2 separate regions of the Homo sapiens genome follow, and region 2 is linked to region 1. Evidence: fine-mapped expression QTL. A gene starts in region 1. The other region holds a variant in brackets. All regions are shown on one strand. Distances are from middle to middle.

Evidence for each region.
Region 2: its variant is fine-mapped to the expression of GRIK5 in skeletal muscle (GTEx, PIP above 0.99). The same link has a PIP of 0.9 or more in left ventricle.

Annotation. Positions count from the first base shown.
Region 1 is chr19:42,065,912-42,075,811 of GRCh38, reverse strand. GRIK5 (glutamate ionotropic receptor kainate type subunit 5) reads left to right here and starts at 5,606. Exons shown (of 20, transcript NM_002088.5): 1 at 5,606-6,571. It also overlaps a transcript of ZNF574 not described here. RefSeq lists enhancers at 1-66, 287-336, 417-486.
Region 2 is chr19:42,034,385-42,042,384 of GRCh38, reverse strand. All of the region lies in intron 12 of GRIK5 (glutamate ionotropic receptor kainate type subunit 5), which reads left to right. Among named protein-coding and RNA genes, the nearest start is that of GRIK5, 32 kb to the left of the region's middle. RefSeq lists enhancers at 6,597-7,096, 7,314-7,363, 7,294-7,588, 7,334-7,628. The variant G/A (reference allele first, on the strand shown) is at 3,538.

The DNA.
Region 1 (9,900 bases):
TTTTGGGGACGCCGTGAGGGAGTCAGCGTTGGGGACAGGGAGAGGGAGGAAAAGAGCCTGGGAAATTGAGGCACGCGGCACCTTGAGGGCTGGAGCGGGGGAATGGAGGCACGGGAACCTTTGTGGTTTCCCCGAGGGTCAGAGGGAGAAAGTGAAACCACTTAGCGCGATGGGGAGAGGGCAAACTGCATGCAGCACCAGTCACATGGAGAGAGAAAAGGGAAACCAAGGTTCCAGACTCACTTTATTAAAAGGAGGGGAATGAAGGCAACAGGAAGAAACAGAGAAAAGACCGAGGGGACTTTTGGGAGGTGGAGAGAGGAGAAATGTCATAGGGGAAGCAAGGAGAGCGAGGATATGGAGAAAAAGAAGCAGGGACAATTTCATTGGAAGAAATAGGGAGTGTGGTGGGTAGAGGACCTGAAGGACAATCGGGGTGAGAGCCTGAAGGAAGTGAGCCGGTAACGGGCGGACTCCACTCCACCTCCTTCCGGGGTGACTCTGACCCTTACACCTCGAGATTGGGGCCCCATGTGTCCAAGGGGCTCTGGCCATTCCTACTCACCTCGTTCCTGCGCCCCTCAGGGCCTTGGGAGGGAGTTGCCCCAGTACTGTTAGAAACGTTTCCAGGCTGGGCGTGGTGGCTCACGCCTGCAATCCCAACATTTTGGGACGCTGAGGCGGGTTCACTTGAAGTCAGGCATTCGAGACCCACCTGGCCAACCTGGTGAAACTACCATCTTTACTAAAAATACAAAACATTAGCTGGGCGTGGTGGCTCGTGCCTGTAACCCCAGCAACTCGGGAGGCTGAGGCTCGAGATTTGATTGCACCCAGGAGGCCGAGGTTGCAGTGAGCCGAGATCACGCCACTGCACTCCCGCCTGGGCGACAGAGCGAGACTCCATCTGAAAGAAGAAAAGAAACATTTCCAGACCTACTCCTTGAACCCAAACACAGAGGAATTTCAACTTATCGGATGAGGAAACTGACTCTCAGAATTGTGTTATTTATTTACTTACCTGAAGCCACTATGGGATGCGTCTCACAGTGAGACCCGGGGCCAATTCTATGGCCATTTGGTCACTAGATGTCCTAACCTTCTCATGGATTAAATTCCCTAACACCAGGCATGTATAGTTAAAACAGATTCCCGGATTGGAATCCTGGTTCTAGGGCAAGTCAACTGTCCTGAGCCTAAGTTTCTAATCTGTGAAATGGGGCTAATAACAGCCCCATTTCATGTGAGCCCCATTTCATCTCATGTGAGGCAGAGAGTAAAAGACATCTAGGAGTTACTCATTTTATTTTTATTTTATTTTATTTTATTTTATTTTATTTTATTTTATTTTATTTATGAGACAGAGTCTTTCTCTGCCGCCCAGGCTGGAGTGCAGTGGCGCGATCTCGGCTCACTGCAACCTCCGCCTCCCAGGTTCAAGCGATTCTCCTGCCTCAGCCTCCTGAGTACCTGTGACTACAGGCGCTCGCCACCACGCCTGGCTAATTTTTGTATATTTAGTAGAGACGGGGTTTCACCGTGTTGGCCAGGATGGTCTCAATCTCCTGACCTCGTGATCCACCTGCCTTGGCTTCCCAAAGTGCTGGGATTACAGGCGTGAGCCACTGCACCTGGCCTATTTTTAAAATTTAATTTAATTTTTTTTTTTTTTGAGATGGAGTCTCACTCTGTCGCCCACCGCCCAGGCTGGAGTACAGTGGCACGATCTCAGCTCACTGCAACCTCCGCCTCCTGGGTTCAAGTGATTCTCCTGCCTAAGCCTCCTGAGTAGCTGGGACTACAGGCAGACACCACCACTCTCGGCTAATTTTTGTATTTTTAGTAGAGACAGGTTTTTGCAATGTTGGCCAGGCTGGTCTCGAACTCTTGACCTCAGGTGATCCACCCCCCCACCCAGCCTCTCAAAGTGTTGGGATTACAGGCGTGAGCCACTGCGCCCAGTCCCTAATTTTTTTTTTTTTTTTTTTTTTTTTTTTGAGACAGTCTAGCTCTGTCACCCAGGCTGGAGTGCAGTGGTGTGATCTCAGCTAACTGCAACCTCTGCCTCCCAGGCTCAAGCAATTTTCAGCCTCCTGAGTAGCTGGGATTACAGGCATACACCGCCATGCCCTGCTAATTTTTCCTAGTTTTTGGTAGAGATGGGTTTTTGCCACATTGGCTGGGCTGGTCTCGAACTCCTGGCCTCAAGTTGATCCATCTACCTTGACCTCCCAAAGTGCTGGGATTACAGGCATGAGCCACCATGCCCGGGTTTTTTTTTTTTTTTTATAGAGATAGGGTCTCACTATGTTGCCCAGGCTGGTCTCAGAACTCCTGGGCTCAAGCTATCCTCCTGTCTTGGCCTCCCAAAATGGTGGGATTACATGTGTGAGCCACTGTGTCTGGCCAGTTGTTATTTTTATTAGTATCTCCGGGAGCCTAATAATAATAACTAACATCTCTTGAGTGTATTATGACGTGCTAGGTATTATGCTCAATGCTTACATGCATTACTCAGTTTAATCCTCTCAACAACCCTATGAGAGAGAAACTGTCATGCTGACTCTACAAAACATCGAGGCCCCAGAGAAGTAACTAGTCGTAGTTCCCATAGTTAGGAAGAGTCAGGATTCCAACCCAGGAGTTGACCTTACAGTCTACATTCTTGGCCCCCAGGCTCACCTGCCTGCCAGGCAGGAAGTTCAAGTGGTTGCATGTTGAAGGGTTGAATGCAAGAAGTGGAGGAAAGAGTTGGTGGAAATTAGTGAGCTAAAGCTAGGCTCGGCCTGCTCTGAAGCAGTCTGGGTTTGCCCTTAGGGCAAAATCACCTGGGGTAGGTGACAGAGAAGTGGAAGCCATGCTCAGTTTTTGACAGGCTGTGTGACCTTGGGCAGATTCTTGCTTCTGCTGAAACCTCCTTTTCCCCACTTGAAAATCTGAGGATCAGGCTGGGTGCGGTGGGTCACACCTGTAATCACAACACTTTGGGAGACCGAGACAGGCCGATCACCCGATGTCAGGAGTTCAAGACCAGCCTGACCAACATGGAGAAACTCCGTCTCTACTAAAAATACAAAATTAGTCAGGCATGGTGGTGCATGCCTGTAATCCCAGCTACGCGGGAGGCTGAGGCAGGAGAATCACTTGAACCCCGGAGGCGGAGGTTGCAGTGAGCCAAGATGGCGCCATTGCACTCCAACCTAGGCAACAAGAGCGAAACTCCATCTAAAGAAAAAAAAAAAAGAAAGAAAGAAAAAATAAAAGAAAAGAAAACCTGGCCGGGTGCAGTGGCTTGCGCCTGTAATCCCAGCACTTTGGGAGGCCGAGGCAGGCAGATCACGAAGTCAGGAGATCGAGACCATCCTGGCTAACATGGTGAAACCCCGTCTCTACTAAAAATACAAAAAAAGTTAGCCGGGTGTGGTGGTGGGCGCCTGTAGTACCAGCTACTCAGGAGGCTGAGGCAGGAGAATGGTGTGAACCCAGGAGGCAGAGCTTGCAGTGAGCCGAGATCATGCCACTGCACTCCAGTCTGGACAACAGAGCGAGACTCCATCTCAAAAAAAAAAAAAAAAGAAAAGGAAAAAAAAAGAAAATTTGAGGATCCAGGTAACTTCTCAGGCCTTTTGCTTGGACTTCTCAACTTGATTTGGGTGGTGCAGGTCTCTTTTCTCCAGATCATATAGGAATAAGCTGAGGATAAGCTGAGGTCTTTCTGGAGGTGGTAGTGCAGGACTGGCTGGGATTTCCGGGACAGGTTGAATTTAGAGGGGATGGTGGTTGGTTTTTGTTTTTTGTTTTTTTTTTGGAGATGGAGTCTCGCTTTGTCTCCCATGCTGGAGTGCAGTGGCATGATCATGGCTCACAGCAACCTCTGCCTCCTAGGTTCAAGCAATTCTTGTGCCTCAGCCTCCCAAGTAGCTGGGACTAAAGGAGTGTGCCACCGGGCCTGGCTAATTTTTGTATTTTTAGTAGTGACGGGGTTTTGCCATGTTGGCCAGGCTGGTCTTGAACTCCCAACCTCAGGTGGTCCACCTGCCCCGGCCTTCCAAAGTGCTGGGGTTACAGGAATGAGCCACCGCCCTGGTCGAAAGGATGGTGTTCTGTGTTGAGGTCCTTCATAAGCAAAGTCCCAGAGGCAGGTGTGAATCTGGGCTTTTAGGCCTGACTGGAGTTAAGTGTGGATGTTTGAGGGGGCGGTGTAGATGTTGACCAAGTGGGGTAAGGAGGTGTGTGCAAAGTTGGTGGTCCTTCAGCGTCAGATATATGTGTCAGATGTGTGTCCAGGATGCCCCACATGCCAGCTTGCAGAGGGCTTCCTGTGCTGGGCTGGCATGTGGTCCAGGAGTTGCCATGTGCCAGCTGTGTGTTCGAGGCATGCGGTCACATATGCTGTGGGCCGCACGTGAGTGTGTCAGTGTCTCCTCCCCATCACGAGCATCGGGGGTGGTGGTGAGTCACGGGCTCAGCCTTCGGCGCCAACTGTCATGTTTCTTCCCCCCAAATTTCACCCCCCACCCAGCCATGCACCACCCACCCCCACTCCAAGATCTGTGTCGCTTCTCTCTTCCATCCCCCTGTCCTGCTCAGCTCCTTCTGAGAGGCTGCAGGGTGTTCCCTGGGAAGGAGTCTCCCACTTCTGGCTCTGCCCTCCAGCTTCCTCTCCTTGTCCCATCCACCTTTCCCACTGCCTCTCTGCTCCTGTGACTAGAGAATGAGGGCCCCTTCTCTCCACCCACTCATCTCTGTGGGTCCCAAGGATTTCTCTGTGCACTATAGGGAATTCTCATACTCACCACCCATCCCCTCACCTCTATAGGAGCTATTTATATTGGGGGAGGCTTGCCCCGCATCTCCAGGCTGGCAGCTCCTGCCTCAGTGGCTCTCTTGTGTCTATGAGCCACATCCTTGTCTTTTTGGTACCCTGGTGTCTGTAGGCCTCCCTTGTTTCTGTGACCTTCTTCGGCTCTCCTTGGCTCTCTCCCTGCCCTGTGGACCGCTCCCCATATCTGAGGAGTGCTTTCTGTTTCCAGGGGCCTCTCTCTTGTGTCTCTGGCTTCTCCCGTTTTCCTTCGCGGGAGGTCTCTATGTCCACATTACTGCCCCTTGTCTCCGAGGTCCTTTTGCTTGTCTCTGTAGGCTGCTCCCTTGTCTCCATGGGCCTTTCTTTCTTATCCCTGGGCTTTTCCTGTCCTTGTCCTTGTGGGGTTTGTGGGCCTCAGCCCACTTCTCTGGACAGTCTTGACGGCTGTCTCTCTTCTCTTCATTTCTCTTCATCTCTGTAGCCCTCTCCCCTCATCTCAGTGGCCTTCTCCCTGGGTCTTCTTGCCTCTCATCTCTGTGGGCTCCTGTGCCCAGGGCTGCCTGGGCAGGGCGGTGGCATGGTGTGGTAGAGGGGGTGGCTCGGGGGTGGGCCTTCCATCCAATGCAGCTCCTTCTTCTCATCAGCATTCTCCTCGCGGGGGGCCCCCAGCCCCAACCAATACAGGCTCCCCCTCCCCCGACTCACCTCCCTACTCTCTCTTTGCCTGCCTCCCTCCCTTCCTCCTGCCCGCCCTCCTCCCTGCCTCCCTCCCTCCCTCTTCTCTCTCTCCTGAACCACCCCACTGCGCTCCAGGACCCAGCGCAGGCGGCAGGCGGGCAGGCAGGCGGCGGCCTCGGAGGGGAGACTGAGCGGTGGCGGCAGCCAGCGGCAGGGAGGCAGGCCCAGCCGGGGACTGGAGCCGGGGACTGGAGCCGGCTCCTCACAGGGGACCAGGAGTGTGTCGCCAGGCCCTCCCACTGAGGCCCAGCACCGGGAGCCCCTGGGACACCCCACCCTCCTCCGCCTTTCTCTTCCACCTGCTCCTCTCCATCCTCCTCTCCCTCCTCCCTATCTCTCCACCTCATTTGCCCCCTTCTTGGCCTCTCCGGGTCTCCCAGCTCTCCATCCTCCCCAGCTCTCCACTCCCGGGCTCTCCCCGCCCCCAGCATGCTTTTCCCGTGGGGGCTGAGGGCTTGAGGACTCCGGGCCCTTGCCTCAACCAGGGCAGGGCCCAGGCTCCAGGGGGGAGGGGGAAAGGGGGCGGCCCCCTCCCCCAGCAGGCCCTCCCCTCCCCCACTTCTCCTGATGGCCGGCTTCCTTTTCTCCACCCAGTCCTCGCCCCCTGTGGCCCCCCCAGGCCGGCCCGGCTAGGGGAGGGGGCGGGGGCCCTTTCCTGGGCCAGCTTCCCCCTCCCCCGGCTTTGCCTGTGCCCCCCCCTTCCGTTTTCACCTTCCTCTCCTCCTTTCCTCCCTCCTTCCCCTCCATTTGCTCCTTCCCCCTCTCCTCTCTCCCCTTCTCTCCTCCATTTTCTCCTTTCCCCTTCCTCCCCTCCCCGGCCCGCCCTCTCCTCTTCCACCTGTCCTTCCTCCCTGCTCCTGTGGAGCCACCGTTTTGGATTAGTTGGGAGCCACCACCGGCGGCGGGGGAGGGGGCCCTGTGGACTGCCCTCTCCCCCCGCCCAGCCCCACCACCACCCAGCGCCAGAGCACCTCCCGCTGTCGGTCTTCGGGCCTCGAGGGAGCCCAGCCCTCCGTCCCACCAGGATCCGTGAGTGTCTGCAGGGCAGGGATTGGGCTGGGTTCTGGGTCCTGGAAGGCTGGGCTCTGGTGCCGCCTGGCAGGGGGGCACCACATTCTCCCCGTTCTCCGGACTGGCAAGTACCCTCCCCCACTAGGGGCCTGCTCTGCGCCCTCCATCTCCTCAGCGTCCATTCACCTCGACCTCTTCTCACCTCTTCTTCTGGGTACATAGCTCACTGCCGCCCCTGGCCCTCTAGCTTTCTGGGGTCCTACGGGGCTGATTGCTCTTACTTGGGCTCTCACTTACCCCGGGCCCCTGGCATGTCCGTGCCCCTGCTGTCTCCAAGCCTCCGTCCTGGTCCCAGACTGGCTCTTTCTGTTCCTCTGAGCCTCATCCTCTGCCTGCGGTGGGCCTTGGCCCTGTCCCCACCCCGTCCAGTCTCTATCTCCTGGATATGTCTTTCCGCTTTTGAGCCCCCATTTCCTGTGTCTCTTGGGCCCCTCTCTGACTCTGCCCAACTTCTCTCTTTGCTGTTAGCCCAGGTTGCTCTCGGCATGTCTCTGTTTAGATCCCTCTCTCTGTCAGAACTCCTCCACCCTGGCTTCCCTCTTTCCAAGTCTCCCTCGGCAGGTCTCTTTCCATTTCTCTTTCTATTCTGTGCCTCCGCTCACCTGTCCTCCTCCCTCTCTCTGCCTCTGAGCTTGGAGGCTGTCTTCCCTCTGTCACTTTTCCACCTCTTTCCCCCAGATCCACTCTGGGTGCCCGGCTCCTCAGTCCCTCCCTCCTCAGCTGCTGCCCCACCTCTCCGTGGTCCATGCTGACTTTTCCTGGCTGGTCTGGCTCTTTCCACTCCCATTCTCTCTCCCGACTTCTGTGTTACCTCGCGTGGCCTTTCTGCTCCCATTCCTCTCCATGTCTGGGGGCTTTCAGGCCCCAGGATCTCCTGCTCCCCCACACGGCATTCCTGAGTGTCTTGGGGTGGCTATGCCTCTGTGTGGGTCTGGCCTCTCCTGCAGGTGCTTGCCCTGTCCCTGCCTGTGCCCCTCTAGTGCACTCACTCCATCTCCCCACCTCAGTTTCCCTCCCTGACTCCCCCTTTCTCTCTCCCAGGTGCTTTTCCCCCTTGCCCCTTCCTCTTCTATGGGCCTGTCGTGCAGCTCCGACATACTGTCTCTCTTTCCGACTGGCCCTCTCTCTTTGTAGAGTTTGGCCATTTCTTTCCTTCTCCCAAGTCTTGTACCTGCTGCTGTTTCTTTATCTCCCTTTGCCTTCTCCCTCACCCTGTGTGCCTTCGCTGGCCCTCCTTGCCTCTCACCTTTGCTGATGTCTCTCCTATGCCCACTGTTGCTCAGCTCTCTGCTGGGTTTTGACTTTTATCTGGCTTTGCCCAGTCTCTGGGGCTGAGTCCTGGACCTGCCTGACACCCTACCTGCCCTGTCTCTGTCTCCTTTGCTGTCTCACTTCTAGGCTGTGTCTGTCTCTTGCTCTCTCACTTAGCCTCAGTTCCTACGTCTTGGGCTGTCTTTCTGTGTGTATCTCTGTGTCCACCTGCTGCCCCTCAACCCTGTCTTTCTCTGTCTGCTCCCACCTTTGGCTGCCACCTGTGGGTCCCTGTCCTTCTGTCCCATCTCTCCCTCGGTCTTTCTGTCCTTTGTCCTCTGCTCCCTGATTTGCCCCAGGAGTCCCTGGTGTCTCAGGATGACCCACTCCACTCCTGCCTCTCTCCTAGCTCCGCCCTTCACACTCCTCCCACTCTGAGCGCTCCTCCGGGTCTCCCAGCATCCCTTGTGCCTCCATCCTTGACAAGCCTTCACCTTAATCCACATTATAGTTTGCAGTCCCCAGCCTGTCCAGCATACCCTCCCACCTAGCACTCTCTTCTTCTCAGAGGCCTAGAAGGCAGTGACTTGCTCAAGATCACGCAGTGAGTCAGGGGCAGAGCTGGGACTGATCCCCAGCCTAGGTTTTGCAGGCCACTTGAGATGGTGAGAAGGACTTGTGCCTCTATCCTTCCCTCGAAGTTCTCATTCCACAGTTTCACCAGCTCAAGCTGTCCTTCCATGGGGACTGAGTGGGGTCCGGTGTCCAGGCCCACTTCACAGCATTCTGTGCCCCCCACAGTAACCCTACTCCATGGAAACCCAAGCATCCCTTCCCGTGGGGCACAGCCCTCAGCCAGGGGAAGTGGAGCTGTGCATCTGGCCAAACTCCTTGCCCAGTGGTTGCCCTGCAGAAAGCTGGGGTGCCTAGAGGAATCCCTGACTCCTTAGGGGTGGAGAGTTGTGAAGAGCAAAGATGCACCATCTCCCCCTTTACTTCTTCTCCCCAGTAGGGTGGGGGGCAGTGGTATGGCACCCACTTCTGGCAGGCAGCTCCACTCCCTGCCTTACTCACTCCTCCCTTCCAGCTCTTCCTGCTTGTATCCGAGTCGGTTCCTATCTTTTCTCCATCCTCTGTCTCCCTCTTCCTGTGTCTCGCCTGTGCCTTGGTTTCCCCACCTCCAGCCTGCCCCTCTTTCCTCCGCTCCCTGCTCTGTCCTTTCTTTATCTTGCCTCCTCATCCTCCTGTCTCTTCCCTCTTTCTCCCTCCTAGTCCTCTCCCTGCCTCCCTGTAACTCTCCTCTTTTCTCTCCATTTCTACCCCCATTTTCCTATTGTCTTGTCTTTCTCTTCCCTTGTATTTCTATCTATTTTGACCTTTCTCTCTTTCTGAGTCTCTCTGTCTTTCCCTTCTCTAAGCCTCTCTTTCACTTTCTCTGTTTCCTCCCTTCTCTCTCTTTGCTTTTTTTTTTTTTCCCCCTTTTACTGCTCTGGGTCCATTCATCTATGGGGTTCTGTGTGTGCCTCTCTCTCTTTTTCTCCATCTCTCCATCTCTCCCGAAGTTTCCTAACTCCCAGATACTCTCTCCTCCAGACCTCGGATGTCCAGGCCTCTCTCCCCATGGGATTGTGGGAACTGGGGATGTTAGGAAAGTGGCAAGTGAGGCCTGGGATGGGGTTGCCTAGCAACCACCGCATCCTCTCCAGCCGGTTTCTGTTGCCTAGTAACGGCTGCCTGCCCAGAGACAGGGGCGGGACTGGGTGGGGGGTGGCACTTCCTGGTTTCCTATTTGGGTGGGGCTGGTCCCAGGAATTCACTCCTACCTGAGAACCTCGCACGCCTCCCTCCTGTTTTGGTAGCTGTGCCCATCCTCTCTCTTGCAGCCTGTCCTACTCAGCGCCTGAGCACTGTGACCTCCACCCTGGTAGTGCCCCTCTGAGCTGAGCTTCCCTTCTTGCAATGCCCTCAGTATTGCCAGCTTCTAAACAGAGCAGGGCTCTGCAGAGCTGTGAACTGCTTGCCAACAATGTCCCCAA
Region 2 (8,000 bases), 32 kb after region 1:
GCCTGGCGGGTGCTGTGGGATGGGACAGAGGAGGAGAGGTGGTACATGCATCACCACCTGTGTCCTGCTTTGCCAAATGCCCCTTTCATGCCACCTTGGATTAGTCGGTGTGCAAAGATTTGTTAAGTGAATGAAAGAGACATGGAGTGGGGAGCAGGAAAAGGTCTGAGGAGGTCAAAGGCTTCCTGCAGGAGGCAGGGCTGAGAGCAGGGAGCACACCTCACCTGTGTGCTATGCCCAGCACCTGCTAGGGAGGGCCTGGCACATCATGGACCTGGAGGGCTGCATGTAGAACTCATACATTCACCCATTCAGTGGCTGTTTATTGAGTACCTACTATGTGCCTTGCCTCTTGCTGGGCATGGGATCCCACTGTGAGCACAGTGGATCTGGACCCTGCCCCCAAGAGCTTAGAGTCTCTTTGGGGCGCAAGACAGTGAATGACCACAGCACAGAGCTGTCTGGGCTGTGATTGGGGAGCTCAGAGGACGGTCCCAGAGGAGGTTCCTGACCCAGTCAGATATCCCAGTAGGGCTTCCCAGAAGAGACGATACCCAAACTGATTCCCAAAGGTCATGAAGGAGTTAGCAAGGTGAAGGGGGTGTGGGAGAAGGGGAGTGTATTTGGAGCAGGGGAAATAGCATCTACAAAGATGGGGCGATACTAGGGAGTGGGATGCACTGGAGGAACCAGCGGGGCCTGAGCGTGGGCAGAATTTGGTTGCAGCTGAGGAGGGATGGAAGGCAGGGCCATGGGAGGTGGCAGGCAAGGGTGCAGTGGAAAGGATCTTTGGGTGTCAGACACTCCTAGATTTGAATCCTTAAGTGTCATTTCTCTCCTCTGAACCTCAGTTTTCCCCTCCCTAAGATGGGGATAATAATACCTTGCAGGTCTATAGTGAGGGTTACGGGACGTGGGGACAAGTACCTCACACATCGCTTGGCAGATACTGGGGGACTGAAATGTAGTTCCTCTTTTTATTCCAGGTGGGAGAAACTATGGGCACAACTGCCCAGAGGCAGGACTGTGCCCTGGGAGATAAGTAGGCCCCTGATTAGGACACTCCCAGAGCTGGTGTGCAGACCAAGGGGCTGTGGCCAGAGATGGCCAGGGCAGCCTTGACGTTAGACTTGACAGAGCTCATCAGAGATTCTCACCCTCCTCTCTCTCATGCCAGAATTTACAGCATCCAACCCCCTGAACATCACGAGGGAAGACATGAGAGGGCCACTTTGCTTGACAAGGACGTTTATCCCTTAGGGCACTGACTTTCAAAAGTTATTTTGACAGAACTTTTTTTCCAATTGCAAACTCCCTCAGAACCCTGGGCAAGAGCAGAGCTGCTCTGGTGAAGGCAGAGATGGGGGTGCCTCCCACCCCACCCCACAGGCAGGTCCCAAGGCGCTGCCCCATAAAGCTGCCAGCTGGTTTGAAAACTTCTGCCCCAGGGTGAGTTTTAAGGTCAGGGTGAATTTTATTATTATTATTATTTTATTTATTTATTTATTTATTTTGGAGACAGAGTCTCCTCTGTTGCCCAGGCTGGAGTGCAATGGCACGATCTCTGCTCACAGCAACCTCTGCCTCCCTGCAACCTCCACCTCCCGGGTTCAAGCGATTCTCCTGCCTCGGCCTTCCGAGTAGCTGGGATTACAGGTGCGCCACCGTGCCTGGCTGATTTTTGTATTTTTTGGAGCAACAGGTTTCATCATGTTGGCCAGGCTGGTCTTGAACTCCTGGCCTCAAGTGATCCGCCCACCTCACCTCCCAAAGTGCTAGGATTACAAGTATGAGACACCACACCCAGCCCAGGGTGAATTTTAAAGCCTGAAGCCCAAAGAGGCCCCGGGTGAGACAGGAGATGAGAAGCCCCAGAGCTGACAGCTCTATGCCCACCTGAGGGCACAGGCTTCCTCGTGACCTGTTTCCACAGCCTGGTCTTTAGTCACGTAGGCTCAGAAATATTCTTTCATCTGGTATCCCAGAAATAAGCAGGCTCCAAGGGAGTAGCCCTGCACCTGAAGTCACTCTAAACTGGATGCCCTTTTTTCACCAACAGAGAAGTCTGGAACAGTTCTTATTTACAGCTGTCTGACCTTTGTGTCTCAGGGCCTACTCAGTAGGGTAGGGTGAGAGGATTTGGGGCCTGGGGCCAGCAAAGTGTGGCAGCTGAGAGTGTCTGTGGTTGGCTGTTTAAAGCTTAGCTCTGCTGTGCACTGGTTGTGTGGCTTTGGGCAAGTGCTTAACATTTCTTTAGGTTGTAGTTTGTTCAACTGTAAAATTGGGGAATAACAGCCCTTTAGCACATAGGGTTGTTTTGAAGAACAACATGCAGTGAAGAACTTAGAACAGGGCCTGGTGCATAGTGGGTGCTGTATGCGTGTGTCCTTTTTTTTTTTTCCTTTGAGACTGGGTCTCTCTCTGTTGCCCAGGCTGGAGCGCAGTAGTGCAATCACAGCTCACTGCAGCCTCCACCTCCTGGGCTCAAGCGATCCTCCCACCTCAGCCTCCCGAGTTGCTGGGACTATAGGCATATGCCATAATGCCTAGGTAATTTTTGTGTTTTTTGTAGAGATGGGGTCTGGCCCTGTTGCCTAGGCTGGTCTTGAACTCCTGGGCTTAAGCAATCCTCCCACCTCAGCCTTCCAAAGTGCTGGGATTATACTATTTTTATTATTGTTATTATTCATACCAGCATGGCCAGCACATACATAGATTTGTGTGTTCATCCATTTTCCATTCAGCCAATGTTTGTTGAGTGCCTACTGTATACCAAGCCCTGTGCTATACCCTGGGGATACCATGGTGAACAAGCCCGATGTGCTCTTACTGAGTGGGCTAAAGGGTTTGGGCCTCAGCAGAAAGCCCATGGGATGCCCTTGAAGAGTTTTGTTTTTGTTTTTGTTTTGAGACGGACTCTGGCTCTGCTGCCCAGGCAGGCTGGAGTGCCATGGGGTGATCTTGGCTCACTGCAACCTCTGCCTCGTGGGTTCAAATGATTCTCCTGCCTCAGCCTCCTGAGTAGCTGGGACTACAGGCGCATGCCACCACACCTGGCTAATTTTTGTATTTTTAGTAGAGATGGGTTTCGCCATGTTGGCCAGGCTGGTCTCAAACTCCTGAACTCAGGTGATCCACCTGCCTCAGCCTCCCAGAGTGCTGGGATTACAGGCATGAGCCACCATGCCCGGCCACCCTTGAAGGGTTTTGATCTGGCTCAAGTGAATTGGCCCTGGGGTTGGGGGAAGCAGTGGTAACAGGAAGACCAGTGAGGAGATAAGGAATGAGCTGGTGGGCCTCAGGCGGGAGAACGTCAGAGCTAGAGACTAGGGGAAGGGCTAAAGAGCACCAGGGCTTGGTGACTGCCTAGGGTGGGGGATGCAGGAGAGGACAGGAGGGAGAGCATTCCTCCTGTGTCTGGCTTGGGCATCTGGGTGATGGCAATGACATTTACAGGGAGAACACTGGAGGAGGAGCTGGAGCGTGAAGGATAGGCGGAGTTTGGCCTTGCCCTGCTGTGGGATAGCCGAGTGTGCC[G/A]AGCTGCACAGGAATAGTCACCACCGTCATCACAACAGCAGCAGCTGTCATTTGTTGATTTCACACCATGTGCGAGGAACTTTTCAAGTGTTACTTAACATAATTTTCATAGCAGTCCTTCATGGCCTGAGGATCACTGCCCAGTGTGAGATCTGGAGTCCCCAGTGCACAGGGCTGCAGCCAGGTGTGTCTGACTTAAGGCCCGTGCCCTTTCCAGCCCTCCAGCTGGGAACTTGGGAAGCTCGGAGTACACTGATGGAGTGGCACGCTGTGCCAGGCCCTTGTCTGAGCTTTCTGACTTGTCTCCATCCTTGACTCCTCATGGCCACCCAGTGAGAGAGGGACTGGTATTAGCCCCGTTTTCTCAAATGTACAGTGAGGCATCAAGGTTTCATGTCCAGGCCCATGGCTAGTGACCAGGAGAGCCAAGGTGGGCACCCCATCAGGGTGGCCCAGAGCTGGTGAGTGACTTCCAGATGGAAGACAGCCTGGGGCACCACCATCCTGCCAGTCACCCCTGGGCCAGGCACAGGTCTCCTTGGCCTGTCTTGAATTATGACCCATTTTTTCCACCCAGTGGCCATGGCTGACATTGGCCTTCTCCCTGCCATCACTGCCATGGTGTGAATTCAGGTCCCACCCCTCTCATCAGCCTCCTTACTGGCCTCCTGGCTTCTAGTCTCTCCACTCCCCAGCTTGTCCTCCAATAGAACCTTTCTACAGTGTGAGTCTGATCTGTCACTTGTATGCTTTAACTGAAGCCCCTGAGGCCCTCAGGATAAAGCTTAGCCTTCAAGGGCAAAGAAGATCTTAGGTCAGGGTCCCAGGAAGCTGACTCTGAGATGGAGATGTAGAGGCAGGAGGTGTGATGGCGTGCCCCTGGAAACCTGCCCTGTGCAGGAGGGAAGGAAGCAGGCTTGGGCAGAGGAGTTGAGCTGCGCTGCAGTCACAACTGGGCCTTAGCTGTCCCACAGGCAGCTCTGGAGCTGAGCTGGCCGTCAAGGACCTCCCCCTGTGGTAAGGGTGCCAGGCCTTTAAGCACCCACTGATATGTCACTGGACGTGGGCTGCTCTTGGGGAGAGTCAGGACTTTGGGTGAGGGGACGCTCTTCTACTGACAGAGCTGAGAGCCATCAGCCACCTACACCCTGGGCAGCTGAGGCAATGAGTGCCCCACTCCTGAAACAGAGTCTGGGTAGCCACCATGGAGTCCACTATAGCAGTGCACTGGTTAGGAGCCAGAAGGAGCCAGCTTCAGGTCCCCAGTGCTCCCACATGATCCCTGCAAAGCCACTTATCTCTGAAGGTCAGTCACTCCTCTTGAAAAGGGGCTAATGTTACCTCCCTCACAGAGGGTTTTTTTGTTTGTTTGTTTTTGTTTTTCTTTTTGAGGCAGAGTCTCACTCTGTCGCCCAGGCTGGAGTGCAGTGGCGTGATCTCGGCTCACTGCAACCTCTGCCTCCAGGGTTCAAGCGATTTTCCTGCCTCAGCCTCCTAAGTAGCTGGGATTATAGGAATGCACCACAATGCCCGGCTATTTTTGTATTTTTAGTGGAGACGGGGTTTCGCCATGTTGGCCAGGCTGGTCTCGAACTCCTGACCTCAAGTGAGCTGTCCGCCTTGGCCTCCCAAAGTGCTAGGATTACAGGCATGAGCCACTGCACCCAGCCAGTGAGTTTTAAGGCAATTAAATGAGAGCGCATTTGCACAGAGCCTGGCACATGCCTGGCTCACATGTGGTCACTACTGCTAGATACCTTTCTTGAGGCGGTCTGTATGTGAGTGTAGTTAGAAGAATGGGTTTTGGAGTCGGCTAACCCTGGGTTCAAATCTGGACTTACTCCTTACTGGCTTTGTGACCTGCAGGCAGGTGGCTGCCCCCTCTGAGCCTTAGTGTCTCCTCAAATGGGGAGTGGTGACCCCCTAACTTGGAGGGGTATCACAGGGGACAGATGAGATCAGCACAGGTCATAGATGCTGGCATGACCAAGACAATACCCACCCACCTCACCTGTGGCCTCCACACCCTGGGGATGGGAGCCTTGTCTACTTAGCTATGTCCCCAGCTCAGGGCCTGACACATGGCAGGTTTCTAGTAAATTAGTGTTGAATGGGCAATTGACTGATTCTATCAAGGAGTCTTTAGAAATGTTGTCCCCAGTTCTCTTCATCTGATAGAAGACGCACACACACGCCAGGCATGGTGGCTTACGCCTGTAATCCCAGTACTTTGGGAGGCCGAAGTGGGAGGATCACTTGAGCCCAGGAGTTCAAGACCAACCTTGGCAACATGGTGAAACCCTATCTCTACAAAAATTGAAAAAATTTAGCCAAGTGTGGTGGCATGTGCCTGTAGTCCCAGCCACTCAGGAGGCTGGGAGGTGGGAGGATCACCTGAGTCTGGGAGGTTGAGGCTGCAGTGAGCCATGATTGCACCACTGCACTCCAGCCTGGGCGACAGAGTGAGACCCTGTTTTAAAAAAATAGGCTGGGCACAGTGGCTCACATCTGTAATCCCAGCACTTTGGGAGGCCAAGGCGAGCAGATCACCTGAGGTCAGGAGTTCGAGACCAGCCCCGCCAACATGGTGAAACCCCATCTCTACTAAAAGTACAAAAAAATTAGCCAGGCGTAGTGGTGTGCACCTGTAATCCCAGCTACTCAGGAGGCTGAGGCAGGAGAATCGCTTGAACCTGGGAGGCGAAGGTTACAGTGAGCCGAGATTGCGCCACTGCATTCCAGCCTGGGCGACAAGAGTGAGACTCTGTCTCAAAAATAAAAATAAATAAATAAATAAATAAAGTCCATTTCATTAAAAAATTTTACATTATACTGTGTTTCCGGTTATAAAACATATTTGTATTAAGTATAATCCTATTTTGCACAACAATAGCAAGTATATATGCATTAAAAAGCATTTTTGCATACCATCAGAAATTTTCATAAGCAATTATTTGAGAAGGAACTCCTTTATTTTCTGTTTATATATGTAATACTAAATGATAAAATACCAAATGGTACAAATAGCAGAAACACTGGATATACATGATGTTCTTACACCTCAGAGACCATATTCCTCCAACTCATTTTCTACAAATTCATTAATACAGGTACATCTTTAAATTTCTTAATTTTTTTGAGACAGAGTCTGGCTCTGTTCCCCAGGCTGGCGTGCAGTGGCACGATCTTGGCTCACTGCAACCTCCACCTCCCAGGTTCAAGCAATTCTTCTGCCTCAGCCTCCCAAGTAGCTGGGATTACAGGCGCCCACCACCATGCCAGGCTAATTTTTTTGTATTGTTTAGTAGAGATGGGGATTTCACCATGTAGGCCAGGCTGGTCTCGACTCCTGACCTCAGGTGATCTGCTCACCTCGGCCTCCCAAGGTGCTGGGATTAAAGGCGTAAGCCACCATGCCCAGCCTAAATTTCTTAAATTTTTATTTTTGCAAAAATGATATCTTACTATACTTACTGCTGTGTAGTTTGCTTTTTTTACTTGTAACTTGGCCATCTTCCCACGTTAGTACACATAGATCTGCCTCATCTTTAAAAACAGCTACGTTTAGGCCAGGCGCAGTGACTCACGCCTATAATCCCAGCACTTTGGGAGGCCGAGGTGGGCGGATCACCTGAGGTTGGGAATTCGAGACCAGCCTGACCAACATGGAGAAACCCCATCTCTACTGAAAATACAAAAAAATTAGCTGGATGTGGTGGCGCATGCCTGTAATCCCAGCTACTCAGGGGGCTGAGGCAGGAGAATTGCTTGAACCTGGGAGGCAGAGGTTGTGGTGAGCCGAGATGGTGCCATTGCACTCCAGCCTGGGCAACAAGAGCGAAACGAAAACAAAAACAAACCAGCTACATTTAGTCATTCACTTACTGAATAACTACTGAGCAACTATTCTGCACCCACTGCATCCTGGCCACTAGGGGGCAGCAATGTAATGAGCAGAGGTGCTCCTTGTCCCCTCCTTCCCGCCCCCCGCCCCAACTGCTGATGTTCTAGTGGGGGAAACTGACAGCGTATGATATATTAATATCGTGTTAGGTGAAGCAAGGTAAGGAGATAAAAGTGTCTGGTGCGTGGATGCTGTTTTAGACAAGGTGGTTGGATAACGTTTGAGAAGAGACCTAAAAGGGGTGGGGAATACAGTCCTGAGAAGAGCCACCAGGGAGGGTTTTATGAGGGCAGAAGTTTGACTATTTTCCTTACTTCTGCATCCCCAGCGCCTAGAACCATCTGACACCCAGCTGGTGCGCAGCAAATAATTGCCAAGTGAAAGGATGGATCTGGGGAAGAGTGTTTTCCAAGTAGAGAGCCCATATGTATAAAGACTTGAGGGGAAAAGTGTGGTTGAGGGGAAAAAGTGAGGGGCAGAGAGATCCGAGAGCAGGGCCCACATCCCAGGGCCTCACAGTCACTGCTAAGGAGTGTGGCTGTTATTTTTTATTATTATT